4 separate regions of the Homo sapiens genome follow, and all the other regions are linked to region 1. The links come from fine-mapping of genetic effects on gene expression. A gene starts in region 1. Each other region holds a variant in brackets. All regions are shown on one strand. Distances are between the middles of the regions.

Evidence for each region. PIP is the estimated chance that this variant, and not a neighbour inherited with it, causes the effect.
Region 2: its variant is the best candidate, but not a certain one, in a credible set for the expression of FRMD4A in stomach (GTEx, PIP 0.89).
Region 3: its variant is the best candidate, but not a certain one, in a credible set for the expression of FRMD4A in whole blood (TOPMed, PIP 0.73).
Region 4: its variant is the best candidate, but not a certain one, in a credible set for the expression of FRMD4A in whole blood (TOPMed, PIP 0.52).

The regions. Positions count from the first base shown.
Region 1 is chr10:14,327,120-14,333,342 of GRCh38, forward strand. It overlaps FRMD4A (FERM domain containing 4A), which reads right to left and starts at 3,805. Exons shown (of 25, transcript NM_018027.5): 1 at 3,478-3,805; 2 at 2,939-3,064. The coding sequence starts at 2,983.
Region 2 is chr10:13,642,856-13,649,078 of GRCh38, forward strand. FRMD4A (FERM domain containing 4A) reads right to left here. Exons shown (of 25, transcript NM_018027.5): 25 at 851-4,180. It also overlaps a transcript of PRPF18 not described here. Among named protein-coding and RNA genes, the nearest start is that of PRPF18, 59 kb to the left of the region's middle. The variant T/C (reference allele first, on the strand shown) is at 2,316.
Region 3 is chr10:14,007,262-14,013,484 of GRCh38, forward strand. The region is part of intron 2 of FRMD4A (FERM domain containing 4A); the gene reads right to left. FRMD4A-AS2 (FRMD4A antisense RNA 2) reads left to right here. Exons shown (of 3, transcript NR_199003.1): 3 at 1-265. Among named protein-coding and RNA genes, the nearest start is that of FRMD4A-AS2, 19 kb to the left of the region's middle. The variant A/G (reference allele first, on the strand shown) is at 2,965.
Region 4 is chr10:13,724,377-13,730,599 of GRCh38, forward strand. The region is part of intron 12 of FRMD4A (FERM domain containing 4A); the gene reads right to left. LOC105376426 (a long non-coding RNA gene) reads left to right here. Exons shown (of 4, transcript XR_001747371.2): 3 at 761-885; 4 at 2,946-5,951. It also overlaps the pseudogene RNA5SP301. Among named protein-coding and RNA genes, the nearest start is that of PRPF18, 140 kb to the left of the region's middle. RefSeq lists an enhancer at 3,812-4,666. The variant C/T (reference allele first, on the strand shown) is at 3,363.

The sequences.
Region 1 (6,223 bases):
AAAGGCCTCTGAGACACTGTTCAAAAGTCATTGGCTTTTGTCCAATGGACCAACTTAGGTTCCTGTGGGGTAGACTCCTGATGGCAGAGTATGAATGAACACTAATGATCATCCGTGTCAGCTAATAATATGAAACATATCTGCCCTAGCATAAAAGCCAGAGTGGGAACACACTCCACCATTTTCATAGCAATACTGCTCATGTGCAAGGTTGGAAATAGAGACATAACGCTAAATAAAGCCCTCGAATTGGCTATCCTGGAACTTCATCTGTACACTGTTTCTTAGAGATCTTAAATTGTGTTTAACAGAATGGAAGGGAACCTAGACATCAGAGAGCACTCTCAGTTAGCAAATGGCATCACCAAGGCAGAGAAAGGAAGGGACATTCCCAGGATCACTCAATGAGTGGCAAGGCTAGAATGGAGCACAGGGCTGTCCAACCCTCCAGACTCTGTGGCCGCTTCTGTAACCAATTAAACATGCTCTGCCCTGAAGCATTTAGCATCTAAGCTGAATGTAACCTCTGGGTGTCTCCTTATCCAAAAGCAAGGGGTGTGGCCAGATCATCTCCCCACCTACCCCTTAGCCCCGATGACTCCATAGCACAAAATCAGAACTGCAATCCACCAACCTGGTATCAGCCTCCCACAGACTGTGTGTTTATGAGCTCTGGCTCTTGCTGTTATGCCAGGCTACTTTCCTCAGTGAGCAGACACGCGATAAATACTGACAACTGATTGGCTGATGAATGAGCTCATAAATAATAATGTTTACAGCTTCCTTCCTGAACTCACAGCCAAAGCAACTCCGCTAAATGGCCTCTTTTCCTCCTTTCTTTCCTCCTCGGCTTGCTTATAAATTTTAAGATGCATCATGCAAGATGTCAGGGAAGCAATTACTTTGGGGTTTACCCTTAAAAAGGAAAAAAAATAGCACCAAAGTCCATAGGGGAAAATTTCCCTGAACTAAACATGAACCAGAAAATGTATACAGACTTTGATTACACATGGTACTCCAGGGTTCTTTAATCAAACGGTCCATCAGGGTGTCAAGAGCTCTTTCCCCTGGTTTCCAAGAGAGGAGAACACGATCCTTTTTTCCGGGCAGGAGGAGAGTGCCAGGGACAGATCTAAGGGCAGAGGCCACTGACAAATGGAAGGTGAAGTCTGAGATGTAGACACTACCAGGACAGCAGCCATAATATGTGGAAGACCCAGGACCAGAAGAGCCTGTGTGTGTGTGTGGGTGGGGGGGGGGGGTGTATAACAGCAGAAATGGATGCTATTCATTTAATTTGGATACCAAGGATTCATGCTTAGGGGCTTGGAATAAAGCAGATACACATCTTTCTTCTAAGTATAGAAGAAAGGTCCAAGTAGGAGGCTGAGACAAGCGGGTCTAACTCTCCCTAAAGATATTTTTCAAGAAAACTTTTCTCCTCTATATTAACACGATGCAGGATTTATTTCTGTTAGTGTACTAGATAATATAATATACATATGCATGTGTGTGTGTGTGTGTGTGTGTGTGTGTGTGTGCATATGTGTGCCTGTATTTCAGAGCATATAACCCAGGCTCCCAGGTTCCCAGAAGTCTCCTAGACCCCATAGATAATGCATTTTAGTGCCAGCCATCATCACGAATACTCAGTGATGGAATGAAAATTCCTATCCAGTTTATTTGACCACAGGTAGACGATGGAGGATAAAGTATCATCAGACGATAGAATTAGTAAGGGAAAGAAGTCAGGTAATGGGTAATTTCTCTGGAAACTGACAATTTCATTTCTTCTAGTCCTACTCCCCCAGTGAAATGAGAAGTCAGCAGAGGCCCATGAGATAGATTTCAGGCAATTCAACTAAATCTGTGGACCCAGTGGAATTTTGAGCAACGAAGAACCAAGATATCTGTTCCTTTTAACATGACCTGGCTTGCCACCCAGGGGGCAGGCTTCCCACTGACGGCTCTTCCAAGTCACCTCCATAAACTCATCAGGCCTTGCAAAGTTGCATTTCCCCTCCTCATTCCGAAGACACAAATCAATATACACAGAAGCACTTATGCTTGGTTCATAAAATCTCCTGTGTAAATGCTGGAAACATTTCCATGCCAAGCCTGATGCAGGCTACTTCCGACAACAGCCAGTATTACCGTGGTGTGTGGGAACCCTGGGAAAGGAGAGAGATGCAAAACCATGGCAAAAGCCACTGCTGAACCTAGTGTCAAGCCAAAAGCCAATTGGGTTGGAACAAGACAGTGCCCATGTCCTTGTGTGCTTTAATATGGTAAGAGCTAGGGCTTTCTTAATATGGTGAAAATTCCAGAGGGGCATAAGGTGAGTCAGCTGCTCACACACAGATAAATGCCTGGACAAGTCCTGCCAAGGTTGGCCATCAATGGTAGATAGGAAACAAGCTGCTCCCAACTCAGTAGCCCAAGCATCACTGAAGCCACAGTGAACCTCCTCCACCACCTCTACAGGAAAGTATGAGCAGATATATGGGCGCCTAGAAAGAAGACCCCATTCTGTCACCCCATGGGCAACAGATTCCACAGTTGCCCTGAGAAGATATCCAAAAACAAACACAATCAGCTCAATTTAGATGCAAAAGACAAGGGGGAAAGGATGCTGGGAGCTGGAGGAGGCATCCTAGCAATCTATTTCGAGGGGCTCTTAGCACCTGTTTGCAAGCACAGCTCTCAAAATAGCATTCAGCAACAAGTTTCTGAAATGGCAAATCTACAGCTTCTTTTCCCTGCAAGTGCTTTGTCATGCTGATACTCTGACCCAAGAAAGCATTTCCAAAGAGCCTGCGGGATAAAGCGGAGCAATGTTGAACATGTCTGCAGCCACTGCAGCGGCAGCAGCAGCCCACGGTGCAGGGGAGGCTGGAGTGGACGCTGCCCGGGCCCCACCTCCTGTCTGAACACTCACCATCAGCAGGCCGAGAGCTGAGTCGGGCACCAGCTGCACTGCCATGGTCTCCGATTCCCATGCACGAATCCTGCTGCCGAGTCAGTCCTCCTGGGCCCCGGGTGGCTACAGAGCATCCAAAAGCACCTGCAGAAAAAGCAGCCAAAATCCAGACTTAGGGAGCAAAAGGCTCAAGGGGAAGATAGGCCACCTTTCACACAGGGTGGGGAGGAGGTCAGGGAAGACAGGGTGGGAACTGTGCTTAGGGAGGAAAAAAAAAAAAAGAAGAAGGAAAATAGGAAGCTGCAGGTTATTTAAAAGTGAGCCCTCCCTAGCTTCGCAAAGCGGCACAGACAGGGAGACCGCATCAAACACAAACGTGAAAGCTTAGAACACGGAATGTTTAACTGCTACCTTCGCCCTGGCAGCAATTCTTCCTTTAACTGACAATTAAAATAAAACATTCCCTATTGCAGATAAATCAAGCAGCCCGAGCCACCCCCTCTCTCTGCATCTCTCAGCAATTCTGCTGCATAAACATGCTGAATGTCACAACATACCGCTCGCAATCTGGTCAGTGTCTTCTTTGCTGCAGATAGGTGTGTCCCTTTTTGCAAAATCAGATATCTGGGAGTGAGACAGCCGAGTCTGACCATGAGGCACCAGGCAGTCACTGGAGATCAGCAAATGCCCTTACCATCCCCGAGGAGGAAGTCACTTAGGAACTGACCCTTCCACCTTCCCCAGATCTACTTTTCCTCTCCAAGTAGACTGGCCAGCTCAGCTCCCGGTAGGGCTAACATACTTAAGAGGAACATGGAATTGCACTGCCTGTTCTGTGAGCGTTCTGATCTCCCTGGCTGTACCACATGTACGCCGCATACAGACACACTCTACCTCTCTCTCCCTCCCTTCCTCCCGCCCTTCCTCCCTCCCATCCCTTCCCTCCCATCTCTCCACAGGGCTGCCTGTTAGGAATTTTGAAGGAGCCTCCCTAGTTCAGGGAGGCATAGGAGGTGAATTTGTCACAAGGGACACTGCTTAACAGGAAAAGGCAAGTTAGCCTTGAAAATCATATCATGCAGCATTTTCCCCGGAAGATGTCAATGAAGGGAGAAAGAAAAAACCTGCCGAATCTTGTTATATAATGGGTAGCTCAAAGGGCTTTCCAGAGTCAAAGACTTAAGAAAATTAGATATCTTTTCATGAGCACTGTCAAGCTTGTATCTTCTTCTGGAGTCCATGTATTCAACTAAAAATGGTTATTCCTGATACTTCTAGTATGTCCTTTTCTGATTTCTTCCTTTACTCACCTCCTGTAATGGCTCCAAAAAATCCTGAAAATTAACTAGACAGTGTGAAATGTAGAAACATAGAGAACAGTTTTCGAAATAAGAAACTAGGGGGAAGAAATTAATGACCTTTCATGTTCCTGTGCACGAGCATAGCTACTGTTCCTTTATTACTTATACTTTTAAAACTATTGATTTGGGCCAGGTATGGGAGCTCACACCTGCATTCCCAGCACTTCTGGGGGTTGAGGCAGGAAGATAGCTTGAGACCCAAAATTCAGGGTGAGCCTAGGCAACATAGCAAGACTTCATCTCTACAAAAAAAAAAAAAAAAAAGAAAAATAGAAATAAAAGAATTAGCCAAGCATGGTAGTGTGTGCCTAGAGTCTCAGCTACTTGGGAGGCTGAGGTGGGAGGATCAGTTCAGTCCAGGAGTTTAAGGCTGAAGGGAGCTATGACTGCACTCCTGCAATCCAGCCTGGGGGACAGAGCAAGACTCTGTCTCTAAAAAAATTTAAAAATAAAAAGTATTTGCTCATCACAGTGCTTAGCACAGAGTAAGTACTAAAATATATTCAATAAATGAGTGAAGGCTGGGTGCAATGGCTCACGCCTGTAGCCCCAGTACTTTGGGAGGCTGACGTGGGCAGATCACCTATGGTCAAGAGTTCAAGACCAGCCTGGTCAAGAGTTCAAGACCAGCCTGGTCAACATGGCAAAACCCTGTTCTATGAAAAACACAAAAATTAGCCGGGTGCGGTGGGCACCCGTGTTCCTAGATACTTGGGATACTGAGACAGGAGAATCGTTTGAACCTGGGAGGTAGAGGTTGCACTGTGGTGAGATCGCACCACTGCACTCCAGCCTGGGCAACAGAGCAAGGCTCTGTCTCAAAATAAAAAAAAAAAGAAAAGAAAAGAATAAAACAAAATAAAATAAGTGAGTGAAAAATTTTCTCCCATTTTGTTTTTCCTATAGTGGCCCAATGAGCTTGAACCTTGATTCCACAGTGTGTGGATGGAGTCTCATGTTACTGATCCCCGGAACACCAGAGCAACCCTCCTTGCCAGCAGGTGCCTGGAGATTCAAAGCATGACTTGAGTCGCATGCATGTGGCCTTGCACAGAACTGTCAGGACATTCTGACTGTGCTGGTGGATTGCAATACTATTCAAAATAATATGTATAGTCACATTTGAAAAATAATAACAATGATTTAAGGAACAGGTCTATAATAGTGATTTAAGGGACCTTATCCTAACTTTTCAGATGGATTTCTAAATGTATTCAACTGATATTTGCAGAATGCCGACTTTGTACCTCTGCCCTCAAGGAACTTTTTATCTGGTAGAATCATTAATGATACAAGATAATATGTAAGAAATGCAAAAAAAAAAATCCCAAATAGTTTGGATAGCACAGAGTAGGGAGGGCTTACCATTTCTTTTTTTTGTAGCTTTTGCACTGGAACTTCAGGAACAGCAGAACATCTTTTTCAGGACATTTGCTTTCTGATTCTACATGGACTATGTGTTTGGAAAATAACCAAAGCTAAGAAAAAACGTTAATATTGGAGCTATTGCAACTGGTGGATATGGGCAGAGAAAAGACAAACCCTGAGGAGAGACAGGCAGGAGCAGCCTCAGGTATGGGACAGTCTGGGACATCCTTAGGTTGCAGAGGCCGGCCTGAGAGATTTTGTGTCAGCCCTTGACGTTGGCCCCCAGAACACCCGCCTTCCTCTCTCAGCACTTCACTCATGGCTCCTTTGCCTGGAAAGCCTCATCCCCTGTCTGCTTGAATTGCAGCCCAGATTTTCTGGAAAATAGCCTGCAGCAAATCTTCTGCAAGAAGACATCATTGGGAGGTGCAATTTCAGGGTGGCAAGAGTGGGGGTGTGGGGAAGGTGAGGCAGGGATGGAATGAGAGCAGGTACAAGGTGGGGTTGACCAAAGTGGGCATAGGACAGCTACTCAGTCCTGAGGAAGAGCTTCCAGACAGGTATGGAACTTCCA
Region 2 (6,223 bases), 680 kb before region 1:
TCCAGATGTGATTCTCAGTGGATTGTTTTCCTTTTCGGCAGCATCAACTAGCTCTAGTGGCCAAGGCTTCTGTAAGGCTTCCCATCCAGGAGTTTTTCATGCAGGGATGCTATTGGAGGCCAGACTTCCAGTTTTGCTAGGAGGAGATGCCTATTAAGTTAGGGGGCCAGGGATTCGATTGCAGCAGTCACTACTCAAGTCAGTCAGTCACCATTTCATCTGTAAGTCAGGGACTCTTTGTACTTGCAGTCCCCATAGGCGCTTGGCTCTCGTGATGTGATTTAGAGAGTCAGTGGCAGGGTTTGAGCTGCAGTGTGAGCACAGAGGATTAACGGTAGTCACAGAGAGCCTGAGCAGCCTGTGTGAGTGACCCTCTGCATCCTACATGGAATGAGGGACAACATGGAGAGACTAAAGACGATCCCTCAAAGCCTAGCTTCCTTCATTGCTCCTGCCGTGGACTGTCTTGCAGGGACAGTACACATGCTGGCACATATTACACACAGGGAGCCGTTTGCAGTGAATAGTGATGCAAAGGCTGAGATAGTATCCTCATAAAGATTGACCTCTAATCTCAAGTCCTTTTTTGTAGTAGCAGGAATACATAATTTAGACAATATTATCTTGCACAGTTAACAGAAGGAAACTAGAATAAGAGGGAATTCACCTCAGCTGAACAAACCAAGCTTCTCTGTATCATCTAGCAAGCTCATAAAAATGCCATCTATAGATTGACTTTAATAAAGGAGCCCACTGAGGACACAAGCACCTGAATTACAGATTCCCAGTGCACACGCAAGCATTTATCGCTGACAGACAAAGGAACAAAATCTCCAGGAGGCAGCTGGGATCTTTTCATTTTGAAAATGCTTTAATAAGTGTTGACAACACTGTTTTGCAAAATGTAAAGGTACTATACAAATTCTTAATACAAAAAGAATAAATTAAAAGCAGATTTCTTTTTTTAATTCTGCAACTTTGTCTACAACGTACATCTTTTTCATTGATTACAGTTGAACAGAATCCAGTAAAATCATTTTACATGCTCTACAGTCAGTTTCAGGAGCAACCTAATCTTTTTTCCCCCATTATTAAACTAGAGTCCATTTTACACAACTTGTAATAAACTATTGACATTAATGTATATGTAAAACTTTACACCTAGTTAACTAAGCAGTAACTGGTCATCTGATAGCACCTGGATGGGGTTTGCTATATTTAGAACTAAACTAATACTGAATGAAAACAAATTGGAATTTTAACAGTTTCAACACTCACCTGCATATAATAAAATAAAAAATCAACCTGGCTCACAACATAGTCTGATGTATGTGTTTTCACCAGTCTTCTGGCTGAAACAGGCAATTTCTTTTACGCATCCGAAGAATCCAATAGGGGCTTTATATCAGACCAAGGACTTCGTATTTCACCTTATTTTGTTTTAAAGAAATAGGGATAAAGAGTTTGCAAGTGCTTGTGTACAATAACTACATCATTTCCCACCACACTGATCATTAATCATGTCAGTCTCAAAGGACTAACGTTTTATGTACATTTTGTATTAACTGAACTCAGCTAAACAGTAAAACCTGTTTTACTTAATCTCTGTCTTGACTACCAGACTATCATGATGTTTGTTGGAACTGTAATTCCTGCTCTCCATTTCTCTCTGTCCCCCAAGTTGAAAATATAACCCAAATCTTTAGAATTTTTGCCTCTCATTCCTTGCAACTCCAGTGGGCTAGAATCTTGATCCAGTTTTCTCCAGACTAGATTTCAAGCTACTATGCATGATGTAGAACATGTAACCATGTAACCTCATCAGCTACCTTTTCCCTTTTGACTTTTCCTGTTGCACACAGTTCAGTCTGACTATCCATGAATCTTCTTTGGGAGAAAGAAAAATGGCCCAATGTATAATGTTTCTGAATGGGGAAGGGAGAAAAAAAAAAAATCACTGTTCTTTGTAGCTCTAACCATGAAAGTAAAAGCAACAAAAATATCCCCCAGTGAATCCCTAGAATCATTTAATAATGTAACCGGTATCTCTTTATCCTGCAGGTGTACACTTAAAGCGTTCTGGGAATATGAATCCCTTCTGCACCCTGGAATCACCAGTCCAGCCATGCATGGAGCTGGGGAAAGCAGGCCCTGAATTGTCTAGAGAGACTTGGTGGAGGAGGCCACGGCCCGCCTTGTCCCTGCCGGGTCCCGGCCAGGTGTGTGTGTGCCCCAGCTCGACTCTCGGTGGTCTCCAGGCTGCAGCAGAAGGAATACCTTGGTATTTGTTTCATTTTAGTGTCCATCCTTACCCT[T/C]CTGGTCTGGTAGAGCCTATGGTTATTCTTGGATTCCACATACATGAAAAGCGAAGATTTTTCTTTGTTTTTATGCTTAAGCTAACTTCAGTTCTGCTTTCCCACAAAACTACCCCCACCCTGGCTCCTGTCCCTGGCTGTCAATGCCTTTCCAATAGGAAGTCATTAGAGTGAGAAAAAAATTCCACCCCCACCCCATCCCCCCACCACTTGCGCCAAAAGCACAGCATACCACCTCTGCGGAAACCTTTTTGTGCCATCTTGAATAACCCAACTAAAGTCGTGCACTTGTTACTATAAAAGTATTTTTGAGGCCTTTGAAGATTGATGGCTTTCCAGTTGTGTTTGAAGCATAGCTCAAAACATGTAAACGTGCAGCTCCCACACATTAATTTTTTTCTTCTTTCCTCCTCTTTTGGTATCTGCACACAAATGTGGTGCATGACAGTAACTGATGATGTAGACACATGGGCCCTTTGGGAGCTGATATTTTTTTCAACCCTGCTCTGCCTGTTGGCTAGTAGACACACGAGTCAAATCTTTCTACCTAAGGGCATAGTTGGGTTCTTGGAATAAGTGACACATAGGAGAAGTCGGATCTGAGCTCTTTTGTCACACAAGTGCTAACGAACAGAAAATGAGCCACGACAGTTAAACACTGAATGGATCGCAATGTGCTTTTCCCTTGGTTTCCCATAAAAACGAAAATGAAACACCTTGTGCAAAAAAATAGGATACGCTTTTACTGGTTGGTTTAATGAGAGAGAACCACTTTTGGCCATTATCACCTTACGTTACTACAAATCCTGAAAGGAAAGCAGCTTTGAGTCTTGGGCTCGGCTGAACCCCCTGCATGGACCGGGGCTAACAGTACCCTCTACGACTCCCACAGGTCTCTCTTTGTGTCCAGATGGATGGCGACTGTGAGTCAGCAACGCCAGCCAAGACTTCCTCGCCTTTACCGTGGCATTGGGGCAGTTTTTCAGGCTCTCTACGGAGAGAGAAGTGGGCCAGTAAGGGAGAGGGCTAGAGAGAGGACACCAGTTTACATAGGGTTGACTTTCACTTGTGTGTAGTAGCAGTTCAGAATTTAAAAGAAATTTCCTTGCAGAAAGAATGTCTTCCTCTTGGCCCCTCTTAATTTTTTATGTTTTTATTTATTTTTAATCTTTGGCAGCATAGAACTGATTGTGGTCCTCCGATGCATTTCTGGTGTCGAGAACTTCCTTTCTCAACCTCCCCTTCCCCCATAGCCATCCCCACAAGCTGTCCCATCAAGGAATATTTCAGGTGTAAACTGAATATGCCACGAGGCCTCCTCTTCATGAAGTGCTTGGTTGGCCTACGTATGGGTGGCAGGCTGGACACAGCTGAATCGTCTTTCTGGGTCACCCTGTAACTCAAGTCCCCTTTCCCGTTCTCTCCCAACGCTACTTATCCGCAGGAATTGGATGCCGGCTGGCCCCCCTGATGGTTCCTGGCCTAGGGGCTGTCATGGCAGAGGGAAGCCACCAAGGTGCCATTGAGGATTGGTGTCTGGCTCTCTATGGGCAAGAGCGCCAGGGGACACACAGTGGGACCGGAACCTTCCAGAATGTCTCCTCAGTCAGGTTTTCAAGGGGGAGGGAATGCGGAGACAGGAGAAAAAAAGTGCTGAGGGCCAAAGCTGGTGCAGGGTGACGGTGCGTCTGGGTAAGGCAAATGAGAGGCAGTGAGGTGATCTCAGAATGGCGTTGAGGCGGTCAGATTAGGCCGGGCTGGCTCACACGAGGGTCCCGGGCTTGGCTTTTTCCTGCCCGTACCACTGGACATCAGCTAGTTCTGGATAGAGGGAGGAATCCAGGAAACAGCTATCATTGTAGCTCCTGTGGGAGGCCCAAGAAAGGAGATGAGACAGTTAGTTAGTGGAGGAGGATGGGTTCAGCCAGGCCTGCACTGAGAAGGATATGTTCACCTTGACAGGGCCCTGTGCTAATCACGAGTCTTTCCTGTTCGGAGCAGTGAGGCCTGAGACCCTCAACAGTGCTGTGTGTACAGAAGGCCCCCAGAATCCACACAAAGGGGCCGCCTGAAACCTAGAGCATTTGTGAAGGAGGAAAATGGAAGGTAACTTACTCAGTGCGGTGGTTCTTCAGCGTGGCTGCATCCGGGGAGCACCTGGGAACTCCCAGAAATACTCATGCCTGGGCCCAATTGATTTGGGGTGTGTTTGAGCGCTGAGAACTGTCAAAGCTCCCCACCAGGTGATTCTCAGATGCAGCCAAAGCCAGAACCTCTGGGCTTTCCTCAGGGGACTTTTCCCACACGACAGCTGCCCGGGTTGTCCTCCGTGAGACCCCAGGGCTAACAGATGTCACTAGGAAATTTTTATTCTGTCCTGGAAGAACATTCAAAATGTGAGTTTTCCCTATAGTGAAACTGCGGTGGTATTTTGAATTGTGTTTTAAAAGTTTAAAAAAAATCAATGATGACTTTGCTTTATTCTAAATAACATGCATTGTTTTGTGATTATAAAAGTGTGTTCATTTAAAATAGGAAAGTCTATAGAAGAAAATAAAAGGCTTTTTTTTTTTTTTTTAAGTATTTTAGGGAGGTATCACCATTTAGGTTGGGTAGAAGTAATTCTTAAATCTTAAGAAGCAATCATAGATATGTGGAAGCCAATAGTCATTACTAGGGATCATGATTCGGAAAAACAGCCTCTCTTCAATGATCCTGAATGAGCCCTTTGAATTCCTCTCCTGCAACTGATCTCCCCATGGGGAGTGGTGAGGGATGGGTGACAGGAAGGGACCCTAACCCAAAGTAGTTCAGAGCGGGTGAGTTTTAGGAGCATTTCGGTACCAAACACAGCTTCACGATTGAGAATCATCAGTCATCCCCAGCTTTCTATTTCATTTGCTAACCTCTCTAGGAACAACTGGATGTTGTAAATGTTTCTCATCTGGCCTTAAAATCCATGAAAGCTGGAAAATCACAAGGCATCTGTGCATATACTGGTGGATTTTAATGAGAGTCCTGTGTTTGGAGCACCAGAAATAAACCAGCTTCAGAAGCAAAGTAAGAAAAGGCCCTTGATTATGACACTGGCCATGGGTATTACTATATGTAGGTGGTATGTGGATGATTCTGGGACACCTGTCCTGCAAACTTTGTCTCCACCCTAAGCTGACTTTTGACATTGTGCCTGACTGAAAAACTTCTAATGGGAGAGGTGGTTGGGCCTTGCAGGGGTCCTATGTTTTTCTTAGGGGGACAGTCTCTCCCTAACTCCACGTGGTCCTGGTGGTGCTCTCCACCATGGCGCCATCCTCACTCCCGTGGGGGCCAGGGGACAAGGAACCCAACGGGGCCGGGCCAATGAGAGTCCCCCGATCAAAATCCCTGGTTCAAAGGTGGCCACGTGCCTGAGCAGCTTTGAAACCACAAGGATGTCATTTCCTCCTGAGAACTAGGTTAACAGGAGGAGGAAGCAGAGCTAGAGATGGAAGGAGACCCAGCCAGCCCGGGCTCCAGTGACATCGGCTGGTACACGCTTTTGTTTGCTTACGCTTGTTGAACTGAGTTTTTCATATGTAACTAACGAATACTGGCACATGTAAGTAGTTTCTTAAACTGTTGATGAAATTTTTGTTTCTAACACAAACATGATCTGGGTCTGTTTGGGATAAAACTTCCCTAAGGGGTTTCATGAGATCTTAGGAACACTTAGCCAGTGTTTCCCAAAGTAGTCCTGTGAGTTGCTCTGAGGGGAAAAAAAGCTTCCATGGATAAATAAATTTGAGGATTCTGCCTTTCAGAGGCCTGAAATGTAAATGTATATGAAACATATATTAAAGGTTCTGAGAAGTCCTGGATTAGTTTGCCACAGAACTTCTGGAACAGTATCACCTATTAACATCCACAGA
Region 3 (6,223 bases), 320 kb before region 1:
CATGGGCTTTTGGGGTTTCTGAGACCAACAGAACCACCATATACTTTGTGGGTGTAGGGATTCTCCCTGCATGTTGAGCCTGTCACCCTAATGACAACCAGCTTTGCATTAACTAGAGTCAGCCCCAAAAATGCATCTGTTACTCCAGAGAAGGACAAATCCTTATTATTACTTTATAGGATTTTCTCTACTAGGGGCTTCCATAAAGTAAACATGCTTTCAGGAAATTAACAGAGTAATTTTAAGCCAAAATCCATAGCATTAAAAACAAATAAACCCCAAATGATAGCAATGTATTTGGGGGGAAAAAAGCATGTAATCAACTGCCTGCATAATTTAAACTACCAAAGCTTTGAAGCTCCTTAACATCACCATCACCTCCCTTTTAGACACTGTCACCCAGTAGAAGAAATTCACAGCCCTGCTGCTCTAATGAGTATGTTTCAGTAAACACAGAAGAAATCATTTTCACAGCCCCCATGCATTTCTCAGCAAGCACTCAAATCTTTCAAACCCATTCCAGGGGGAAGTTTCCATCCCAATCTTTTCCCTCATATTTCATCTCTAAGAGCACCCCTCCCCCATCTGAGATCCACAAGTTACAAAAATTACTGTTTCAGGTTTCTCATCATTATCTGTTAAAAAACTAAAATTACAGATGAGATAGTATTCTACAGTCCCAGGAACTCCAACTGTTCAGGAAACGTGAGTAACAGAAGTAACGCGGTATACAATGAAAACAAACATCTTCCTGTCTTTGGAGCAACTGAGAAGCAAACAACCCGCCACGTAGCTTACCCTTTCAACGCTGCGCCTTCTCAGAGATCCATAAGGAATTTTCAGTAAAAGTCTTTGGGATCTATTCGGAGCCACTGCAGCCTGAACCACCATGGTGTACAGCTGTGTGTGTGTGTGTGTGTGTGTGTGTGTGTGTGTGTGTGTGTGTGTGTTCCCAGCAAAGGGAGAGAAGGAGCCTCCCTCAAAAATAAGTTATGGTCTCCTGGAGGGTTCCCAAATATCAAATAACTGAAAGAGTTTTTCTTTCGACCATCTGAGTCAAGATGTGGTTTGTCAGGAGGAGGGGGGATGGGAAGAAAGAAAACCAGCCCAAGTTCTGCAACTTCAGCGCCCACGAAGCAGCATCTCTAGCTTTCTTCCATCTGTCCCTCTGCACAGCTGGCTCAGCGAGACTGCCGTGTCCCGCTTGTGGGCAAGTGACGCGTCTGGGGAGAGTGATCCAGAAATGTCAACTTTGCTTCTCGTGGCTGCAGATGGTAATCAGGTCAGTTGTCTAATCAAAGCTCTATCAGACGTATTATTCATTCCATCACGTGACTCCCAAGCCCCTCGGCCGTACAGTAGGTCACATGCTCACCTTAAAAAGACTATTTGGAATATCACCATCTGGAGTGGAGATTAATGCAGAATCCTACACTCTGATTTCACTCCCTTCTGAACGGAGGAACAATATCTGAAGACCACAGACAGAACACATCAGGGACCTCTTTGAAATCATAAATTCTATCTATAAAACTGAGCATCAGACATGCGTATCTGTTTACCCTTCCTGCTTTCTAACGCATAAAAATAAACGCACGGGTATTACTCACTGTATATGTGAATACAGTCCACAGAGAGAAAGTATGAGGGAAAGAAGAAGAAACTGTTGCAATCACATGGTTCAGATGAATCAAATCAAATCGAACAGGCTTGTGTTTGGCACCTTCTCATTTAAATGTTTGTGTTATAGAACATTTATTTTTACGTGTGCCAGTAAACAAGAAGAAATTATGTTTCGTTTTACACGGCTGTGTCGAAGCAGATTCATCCATCACGTCTGTCAATTATTTTCTGATCATATTGTGTAATTTCAGATCACACAGCCTTCTTTGATGGATGGCATAAATGGTCTCAAACGTTAACTTTTCTGTAATATTTTCCCCTACCTTCCCCATCTCTACTCCTCCTGAAATCGGCTTATTTCCATAGCAGAAAAAATTACTACAAAGAAAATCAAGTAAGGTGCTTCCAGGATATGGGGTATGTTTGGGTTTTTTTTTTCTTTTTCTTTTTAAAGCATTTCTACATACACTGCTTCTGTCTGTTCTGAGTTTTATGAAAGGGATGGCCATTTCCTTTGTAATCATCCCGTGGTTTTTGGTATTAGCCTTGATACCACTCATACGCTCTGGGCACCAGCTTTGAGACACTGTCTGCAGACCAGTGTGCTTACTTCATTGAAAATGACGGAAATGAAGGTTCTGTTTATTCAAACACACCTAATAGGAAATGGGGGTGGGGTGCGAAGGAAAGAAGCAGAGTTTTGTACTATGAGAAAATGAATCAGAAGAAAGAGGCGAAGGGTGCCACGGCGGCGGCAGCAGCGCACGGGCTGGAAACCTGGGTTCAGCCCTCCAGCGCAGACACACATCACGAGTCAGTTAAAGAAAGCATCAGGTTGATGTGGGAAATTCCAAATATACAACAATTGGGCTTTGTTCGTAATTGGTTCCATGTGTGCAGTAGGAGAGTCAGTGAGAGGGTGAGAGAGACGGGGAGACGGAAACCTCTTAACCACGGCTCACACGGCGTCTTTGGTGAGGTGGTTTAGGTTTACATCTCTTTTTTCTCTCTTTCTTGCTTCTTGCCTGCACTGCCTGGTTTCAGAGCATTGGCGGGGGGTGGGAAAAAATCTGGAACGATACCCGATGATTGAGCCAAAGCAAGAGAAACTCATTTCTTTGTAAAACTGCACTTGACGTTGTAACGGTTTTGAACAAAGGATAGGCACACTTTCAGAACACTTTATCTGTTGAGAGTCACGGCATGTCATTCTTCCAGCTCAGTTTTGGGGTCGGTGGGGGGGACAATGATGAGATGGACTGAGAAGCCACTGTCCTCTTCTCTGACCCAGGCCAGGGCAAAGCCCCGGGGAGCTGAATTTATTTACATTTGACTAAATGC[A/G]ACTTCCTGTTTCCCAGGGGTATTAATGAGTGTTTCACTGTGGAGCTTAGGCTTATGGCATAGTTCAGATCATAAGGGACATTTTGATGAACTAAGTGCAAATAAAACAAAAACACATGCATTTGATTAAGGTTAAAATACATATAGAAGAGAATGTTAATGGTAACAAAAATAACCCTGGGCCAGACTCCCACACATCTGAGTCTCACACATTCCACATCCTTCCCTTGGGAGGCGGGGAGAAGGATCACTTTTCATATTAGCACAAAAGCCTCCTCCCAGATAATGGAGCCCTCCCCAGTCCCCGCGGAGTAGGTGACCCCCTCCTTGGAGTGATTTCAAGGCTCTCAAAGGTTGCTGGTCCAAAAATATCTTTCTGATTGTCTTGCCATGGGTGTCGGAGACTTACATATTCAAAATTAATTGTCGAGTTTAGGTCTTTTTTTTTTTTTTTTTTTTTTTTAAATAGAGACAGGGTCTCACTATATTGCTCAGGGTGGTCTTGAACTCCTGGGCTCAAGCAATCTCCTCGCTTCGGCCCCCCAAAGTGCTAGGATTACAGGCATGAGCCACCATGCCTGGCCAAGTATTTCTTTCCATTGTTAGAATACAAATATGTTTCCCCGGAAGGGATATGCATTCATACTCTCACAGTTATGACCACTTTAGGAGAAGCAAGGGGAATGAATGTTCACTGAGCACCTACCCATTGGCAGGCCATGTGCTGTGAGGTTATCAAAGGCTACTTCCATGGAGGAAATGCGTTTCATTATCCCTGTTTCAGTGGTGAAGAAACTGGTGCTCAGAGGGGCTTAGTAAGTTGGCCAAGGCAGCACAGCTAGAAATGTCAGAGCTAGGATGAAAACCAAAGTCAACTGGTGTGATTTCAGGGCCCAGCTTGCCTGTCCTACAGGACTTTATCAGATTACAGCAGTTTGGAAATCCCAAAGGAAGATACATCCATTGAACCCAACAGGAAAATGGAAAACTCTGTCTTTGAAAAGAAGAGAATGTCAATATAGGAAATTGTTAGATTGAGCAATTTTAGAGTTTCTGGAGCTGCTGCTTTGATGTCACCAGGAGTTGGGCACAGGGGACGGAGGGGCTAAGAACCACAAAGGGGGAGGCAGGGAGGCTGGCCTAAGGGGTCAAGGGAGGAGCCGAGTTATTAGAGCCAGGGGCCAGGTCACCTAGTGGAGTCTAGAACCTTGGAGACCCATCCAGTGGGAGACTCAGCCGCTGCTGAAGCCTTCATCCATGGTCAAGGGGAGGTGAGGAGAAATGCCTGGCCCTTCTTTCCATCTGCCTTCCAATCTCCTGGCAGCATCTTCCAGCCAGTTGAAAGGGAACTGTGGAAATAGCCATATAGGCAGGGCAGGGAAAGGGAGAGCCATAGATCTGAGTATATGTGGCTCTGGGCCAGCCCTGAGGGACCGAGACATTGGACCAAAGGAATGGGAAATGGTGAATTAAGGGTGAACTGAAAAGAACAGCAAGAGAAGGCGGGACACGGTGGCTCATGCCTGTAATCCCAGCACTTTGGGACTCAGAGGTAGGTGGATCACCTGAGGTCAGGAGTTCAAGACCAGCCTGGCCAACATAGTGAAACCCCGTCTCTACTAAGAACACAAACATTAGCTGGGCATGGTGGTGGGCACCTGTCATCCCAGCTACTTGGGAGGCTGAGGCAGGAGGATGGCTTGAACCTGGGAGGTGGAGGTTGTAGCGAGCTGAGATTGCACCACTGCACTCCAGCCTGGGAGGCAGACAGCATGAGACTCTGTCTCAAAGGAAAAAAAAAAAAAAAGAACAGCAAGAGGAAAACCTATGGAACAATATTACATAGAAAGAGCAGGTTGTTGTCAGGATAGTGGATGACACGGTACCCTCAGCATCCAGGAATGGCCTAATGGCTGCTGGATGTGGGGTGGGAGTTGAGGGGGGAAAGATGCCTCAGGGATGGGGGGCAGTCAACAAACTGTGTGCAGGAGAGGGAGATGTAGAAGACACTCTTCAGTTCTAGACTCTCCGAAGCTGCTGCTTTTGATGCCTCAGGGAGCAGCACACTTAAGGCTGGCAAAGCCTTTTGTTTGTTTGCTTTGAACATTTCCTTCCAGTCTCAATGAAAATGTTTGCATTAAAACCCTGGAAGGAAAATGCATAGGAATCCATTGAGCCAGGTTTCAGGAAAGTCAATGGTCTTGACATGCCACAGCAAGATGTATCAAAGCAAATGGGTGTTCTTGGTCACGAACAGCAGGGTGTGAAAGGGGTGGCGGGAATGGGGGGAATGTTCCATTGGAGAGAGAACATTTTGCAGTGTTGGTGATAATGGAGGCAGCAGCAGGAGGGGGAAGAGTCTGCCGAGCCAACGTGTATGCACGGTCACAGGAGCAGACTCATAGATGAAGCCAGTGCCCGCGCGGATGCATGCTGAAAAGCCACGTGAAGGGTAAATGATCTCCTGATGGAATCCTGGGTGCTGGCACGGACATGCAGCCTGGTCATTGCAGCCCAGGGTGATCCTGATGAGCCGGCCTCAACTATTTGTCCAATCTTTTGCCCAGTGCCTGAAATTACCACTAGTGAGGCTGGCCTGTCTGTCCCCTGGAAGTCCACTCACATGTGCATCTGACCTCAGAACTGCCACTTGCTGGCACTAAATAAACTCATTTTCATTGCTTTATTTTGTTCATTTGGCAGAATACTGAAAGGACAGGCCACAGGACAGACAGGTTTCAGCTGGGGACGTGACTGAGGTCACACTGTATAATAGATGCTGTCGTGACACTCCCAGGGCAGAAGGCAGGCTGAGGCCACCATGAGCCCCAGCAGAAGGGGCAAAGGATGGTGAGCTGGAGAAAGAGATGGGAAGGTGACCTAAGGGGCCTTTCTGATTTTGTTCCTTATCATTCTTTCCTTTGCAAAAAAGGCGAAATACCACTTACATGAAGGAAACAGAAACAATCCAAGGCTGACATTGTAAATATCTGTCCTAACCTCCATCTTGAGCCATACTTCCTTGTAACATCTTGCAGGGTATTAAAAGCGGGCTCTTTCTCAGTGTCGTTTGAGGGCTCCAGGCAATAGATGGCAACTATTCCCACCCTCTCCCACACGCCACTCAAGGAGTTAGGCCTCTAAGCAGGACATGCACAAGGGGTGTCTGAGAAGCAGGTTTGAAATCCCTCAATGACCTCACCTCCAGGCTGTAGGAGGAGGGAGAGGGAAACAAAAGAGGGGTGTGGGGCTCAGGGAA
Region 4 (6,223 bases), 600 kb before region 1:
GACTCTGTCTCAAAAAAAAAAAGGAGATTTGTCTATTCAGTCCCAGGTGGTCGATGTTCTTATTATCCTAGCAAAGTCTTCTGTCTTCCAGCTAGAGAAACCAGATCTGTTCATAGGTTACTACCGGTTCATGGCTTCTTTTGGAGCGAGCGAGGCTATTGGATGCTCCTCTGCAGTGGTTTGGGATCCAACGATAGCATTTGGTTTTGATTTGCTTCTTCAAATTGCATCCAAGGTCAACGGGGCTCCCTGAGTAATGGGAATCTGCATCTGTAGAGTTATTTAGAAGCCAGCCAGTCTCAGGGCGGCTGCTACGTCATCTGGCTGGGTGTTTATTTGCATGTTATAAATACCAAGTGTTGTGTTTGACCCCTACTGTCCACACAATCAACGTGGCTATTTATATGGCCTTTCTCAGTGCTGGTCCACGTGCCTTTTCAGGGGCAGGGAGAACAGCAGGTCGAGGAGACCAGGCATTGTGTGGGAAGCAGATGAATCCTGGGAGACACATATCCCCAAAGACATATCAGCTGCAGTAGGAAAACCGCTTTTGGTTATTTAATCAGATCTAGCTTGAGCACTGGCTCCACGGGAGTCAAAGACAGACGTGGGGTTACCTACTTAGAAACTGGCATTTTCCCCTCCTACCACTTTCTTCTGGAAAACTGTTGCTTTTCATCCTTTCTTTCATTCATGACTCCCCTCTGGCTTTAAAATGAGCTTGCTTTATTTACCTTGTTTTATTTCTCTTTGTTTCTAGTTTTAAGATTCCTTCAACATCAGGATTCCCGATCATCTCATCAACCGACTTGTTAAGAAAACTGAGGCCCAGGGAAGTGGCTCACAATTGTGTAGAATTGTGAGGTGTCTTGACTGCTGGGCCAGGTATCCGGCAAATAATGGCAGGGGGCAGGGGCAGGCGTGCAGCACCCCAAGGGTATGTCAGGCCTGGAGACTGACTTCAGAGACAACTTGGGGAGATTCTTGGAGCTTGAGTGTACCCCTTCCAGGAGGTGCCTCCAAGCTTGTCACCCTGGGAGAGATTTAGACCTGCCCCTCTTTAGGGGATAATTACATTCCTCCCCTCCTGTGACTTTCCAGATTAATTACTCTCATGCAATAGTTGCTCTCTAAGAATTATTCACCTGGACAGGGCAATGCTTTTTTTTTTTCTGTTCATAGACAGGTCAACCTTCCTCAAAGGTGACAGTCTGACACCAGCATGGGCTTCAACAAGAACACAAGATACAGGCTGGTGCCCTTGGGAGCTTGGCTTACCCAGACCAGTCTCGGGATGGCCTTCCCAGGGCCCTGTGGGAACCGAGGAACCCTGGCTTCCCAGGTCCAGTGACCAACAAAAAAATAACCCTCTTCACAAAGAGACGTTGTTTGCTTTTCGAGGCCATCCCACCTCTTGTTTTCAGTATAAATGACTGTAACAATATTTGCTATGTCAAGGCCAATGCCACTTTTATCCTGGGGAATGAGAAACTCTGTGACAAGTAAACTTATTCAAGATGGAGAAAATTAGACTACATCTATTCTGTGTCTCTTAGTCCCCACTTCACAGATATAAAAAGAGAGGCACAGGGAGGTTAAATAAATTGCTAATCATGACTTTCTAAAATAAACTGGAAGTGAGTTAGTGCCAAGGAAGTGAGTTAGCGCCAAAATTCTTTGGTCAAGAAAATTCTTCTTTGGGGGCCTGGGCAACATGGCAAAACCCTGTCTCTGCAAAAAATACAAAAATTAGCCGAGTGTGTTGCACACGCCCGTGGCTCCAGCTACTAGGGAGGCTGAGGTGGGAGGATTGCTTGAGCCCAGGAGGTCAAGGCTGCAGTGAGCTATGATGGCACCACTGCATTCCAGCCTGGGAGACAGAGTGAGACCTTGTCTCAAAAAAACAAAACAAAAACAAAACAAAACAAAAAAGAAACTTCTGTTTTGGGTCTTGGAGTGGATATGGAGGTCATGAAGGTCGTGAATTTACAAAACATCTCTCTCTTTTTGTTTAGAAGTGTAACTGCTCTAGGAAAGAATTTGACTTTAACTCAGACTAAAATGTCTTCATAACAACAGCAAAACAACGAAGTAGGATCTCATAGAAAGGTCCTCGTTAACTGCCTGTATGCAGAGCAGTGGGCCTTAAGCTCCACTGCCTGTGCTCAAGTCACCTTCAAGGCTTGTGGAATTAGATTGCGGAGTCCCATCCTCAGAGTTTCTGAGCTCGTAAGTCTCAGGCGGGGATCCTTAGTTTGCATTTCTTTCTTTCTTTTTTGAGATGGAGTCTTGCTCTGTTGCCCAGGCTGGAGTGTAGTGGTGTGATCTTGGCTCACTGCAGCCTCAACCTCCTCAAGGCTCCAAAGTAGCTGGGACTACTCCTTTGTATTTTTGTATTTTGTGTGTGTAGAGATGAGGTCTTGTTATGTTGCCTAGGCTGGTCTCCAACTGCTACCATCCTCCTGCCTCAGCCTTCCAAAGTGCTGGGATGACAGGTGTGAGCCACCTAGCCTGGCCGTTAGTTTGCTTTTTTTTCTGAGACAGGGTCCCACGATGTCGCTCTGTCGCCCAGGCTGGAGTGCGATGGCACGACCTCGGCCACTGCAACCTCTGCCTCCCAGGTTTCAGTGATTCTCCTGCCTCAGCCTCCCTAGTAGCTGGGATTACAGGCACATGTCACCACACCCAGCTAATTTTGTATTTTTAGTAGAGACGGGGCTTCGCTATGTTGGCCAGGCTGGTCTCATATTCCTAACCTCAAGTGACCCACCTGCCTCAGCCTCCCAAAGTGCTGGGATTACACATGTGAGCCACCACACCTGGCCAGAGTTTGCATTTCTAACACATTTCCATGTGATGAGGATGCTGCTGGTCCAAGGACCACACTGAGAACCACTGCTGTAGAAGATACCATGCAGCACCGACCAGCCTCTTTCTCCCTGCAGGACTGAAGGACGTACGCCCTCTCCCGGAATCGTCTCAGCTACAGAGAACCACCTTGCCCAAGGTCACCACCCTCTTGCCAAGGGGGTCACTTGGATCTAATGATTGGTTAATGCTGGGGGGAGGGGGTAAGTCTTGGCCCCCAGCCTCAACAGTGATGGCGGTGGCTCCGGGGTCATCCTAGCTTCCGAGTTTCGTCTAGGTTGAGGGCGCCATGTTGGGACTGCATCAGCTTCTCTCTCTGCCTGGTTCTGCTTCCTTTACTTTACCATTTGTTGTTAGTCCAGGGCACACCCCAGTAAACTTCCTGCATGCGAGTTCATCTTAGACTGCTTCCCAGGGAATCGTATGTACAACACTCGGGAGTAGAGAGTCACTGAAACGGCCCTAGCTCTGAGAGACCCCTCCTGACCAGCCAT[C/T]ACCCCTCCCGCTCTTCCTTACTCTGATTTATTGTCTTCGTAGAATTTAACTCTCAGGTCTATGGCCATACTGCCCTGAATGCGCCTGATCTTGTCTGATTTCAGAAGCTAAGCAGGGTCGTGCCCGGTTAGTACTTGGATGGGAGAATTTAGTGCTCGAACACTATTGCTGTAGCTTTCTTTAATAAATAAATTTGACTGCCTTTCCTGCTAGACTGTAAGCTCTGTGCATGCAGGGACATAGTCTCTCTTGTTCTGCAGAGCCAAGAGCAGGGCCTGGTACCTGACAGGCACTCGGACAACACGTACTGAACAAGTGAATGAACTTCCAGGCAGGAAGAGTCACACATCCTCACCAACAACTCCTAGGGTTTCAGAGAACTAGAAAGTCTAGGAATACAGAGGGTGCTTTCAAAAGTGTTGTCTGTAATTGGAAATGCCTTATGTTTGTTTAGTGCTTTAGTTTTATTCATTTTTTTTTAAAGCAGTTCATTCAATATTGATAGCAACCCATATTATCATAAACCCCCATGTGGTGGGCAAGATAGAGGGTTGCTTTGAAGCACTGGGAGAAGAGAAACCGGCCTTGGTGAGTTGAGTCTCTTGCTCAGCCAGGCCCACATGGAAATGCTGGTATCCTGCCTCCTGGACCCATGGTCCTGTCTCTGTATCATCAGCAGAAGCAAACTCAAGTCAGTTGCCACTGAAACTCACCGAGTCTGACTTTCCCCCATGAATACTCATATGGGGGCCATTTTATTGGAGAGGATTTCATATTCACCACCCTGTACGGAATTCTAAGTGCTAGCTCAGTGCTTTCAGGTGATTACCATTCTTTTTTTTTTTTTTTTTGAGATGGAGTCTTGCTGTTGCCCAGGCTGGAGTGCAGTGGCGTGATCTCGGCTCCCTGCAACTTCTGCCTCCTGGGTTCAAGCAATTCTCCTGTCTCAGCCTCTTGAGTGGCTGGGATTACAGGCGTATATCACCACGCCCAGCTAATTTTTGTATTTTTTAGTAGAGACGGGGTTTTATCACGTTGGCCAGGCTGGCCTCGAACTCCTGACCTCAAGTGATCCGCCCGTCTCAGCCTCCCAAAGTGCTGGGATTACAGGTGTGAGCCACCGTGCCCAGCCGATGACCACTCTTTAGAGTTTGGGATTATTCTTCCAAATGGAGATGATTCAGCCATGTCTGATATTGGTGATTTGAGAAGGAGGATGTCTAGGATTGATGCTTTGAGAAGACGATCTCAATTTTCTTAGAATATGATTCCTTTTGTCCTTGGAGAGTTATTTTTAAGTAGCAGATTCTGGGAACTCCCCATGCCCTCCACCTCCTACTCCCAAATTCCGCCCCCGCCCGCCCCCGCGGCCAAGTAGGCCTGGTCTCTAGACGCATGGAAAGCGTTCAGGTCCACTCAGACTGTGCTGCGATCTGAAAGAATGATAACATACGAGAAGGCCCTTTGGTCCTACACTGTGAATGAGTAAGGGGCAGCTGCAAAATGCTAAGAATGCTGAGTGCATTAAGTGAAGTGTTTCTCCCAGGTGTGCACAGGGTGTGGCTTCCAAGGGGAATGTGGATGCTGGAATGAGGGAGGCAGCCACCTAGGCCGGTCAAGTCAGAGGCCCAGCAAGGAGAAAGCGAGCCAAGGCAAACGCCGACAGAAGAGAACGATAAATCCGCGGCGCACTCGGCAGAACGTACACCGCACCGCATAATTTAGCGGGGCAATGCCGCCGGGAGTCCACGCCAAGTTAATGGAATATTTCCTGTAAATATTATTTTCCCTTCCTGTCTCATCATCTCATTTCATTCAAAAATCTTTACTAATCCGGGGGAGTGAAAGTAATGCATCAATTTCCAGAGCCAATGCCCCTGCTTCCGAAATACCCTTAGGAATCACTGGAAGCCACCGCGGCTGCTTAGGGACAGGGGGGCAGGCCGTTTACTCTGGTTCCTTCTCCTAATGCCTCAGAGGGGACCCCATAGTGCTCCTAATTGTGCATCTAAGTGTACATAAAAGCCCCCCTAATTGCACATCAAATAAATAAGTAAATGCTGTCTGCTGAATATGTAACAAGGACTGATGTTGCTATTTCTTCCCAGGGGGGAGATTTCATTAAATCTGGGCTGCATTTCTAAGTGATGATTTACAGATATTGAATATTCTTTACAAGGGAGGCTTTTTTGGAGTTATGTGCTTCACAATATTTGCTCTAATGCTTAAAGCCTCAGATACAGCCTGCTGGAGGTCTCTTTATTCTAACTCTTAGTGTCCTTTTGGAAAGTCTTTTCTGCTTTAATGTGTAATGGCTTCCGATGATCAGATGGCTGGTTTGTCTGCAGGTCTGGGGACTGTGCAACCCCCTGGTCTCCCAATGCCTCAGTTACTGACGCTGCAAACAAGGCAGATTGTCCCAGAGATTAGAGCTCTCAGGCTTTCTCGGGCTTCAATCAATCAAAGGAACGTAAGGACCCCTCCCCTACAGAGAGAGCCGGACGTGAGCCAGATTTTGTCCAGACTTACTTATATCTGCCCTGTGGGATCCCGATTCTGCAAGATTTAATAAACAATGCCTCAACAGATAGCATTTAATTTTCATTCAAACGTTTCCAGGGAAGAAAGAGGTAAAACTCTTGCTTGTACCAGCACAACTGCCCGAAACCCGTGGGATACCCAGTCTGAGGCATGTTGCTATCGACAGTCATTTCACACAGCTGGCAGTTTTTTCTTTTCTGATGGCCTAGCTCTCTTTACTCCACCGTAAATGCAAACTAAGACGAAACTTGGGATTTACCTCCGGTGCCTAAATGCCAACCTGACACTGTCTCATTGTCTCCTGAGCCCAGTAGGACGG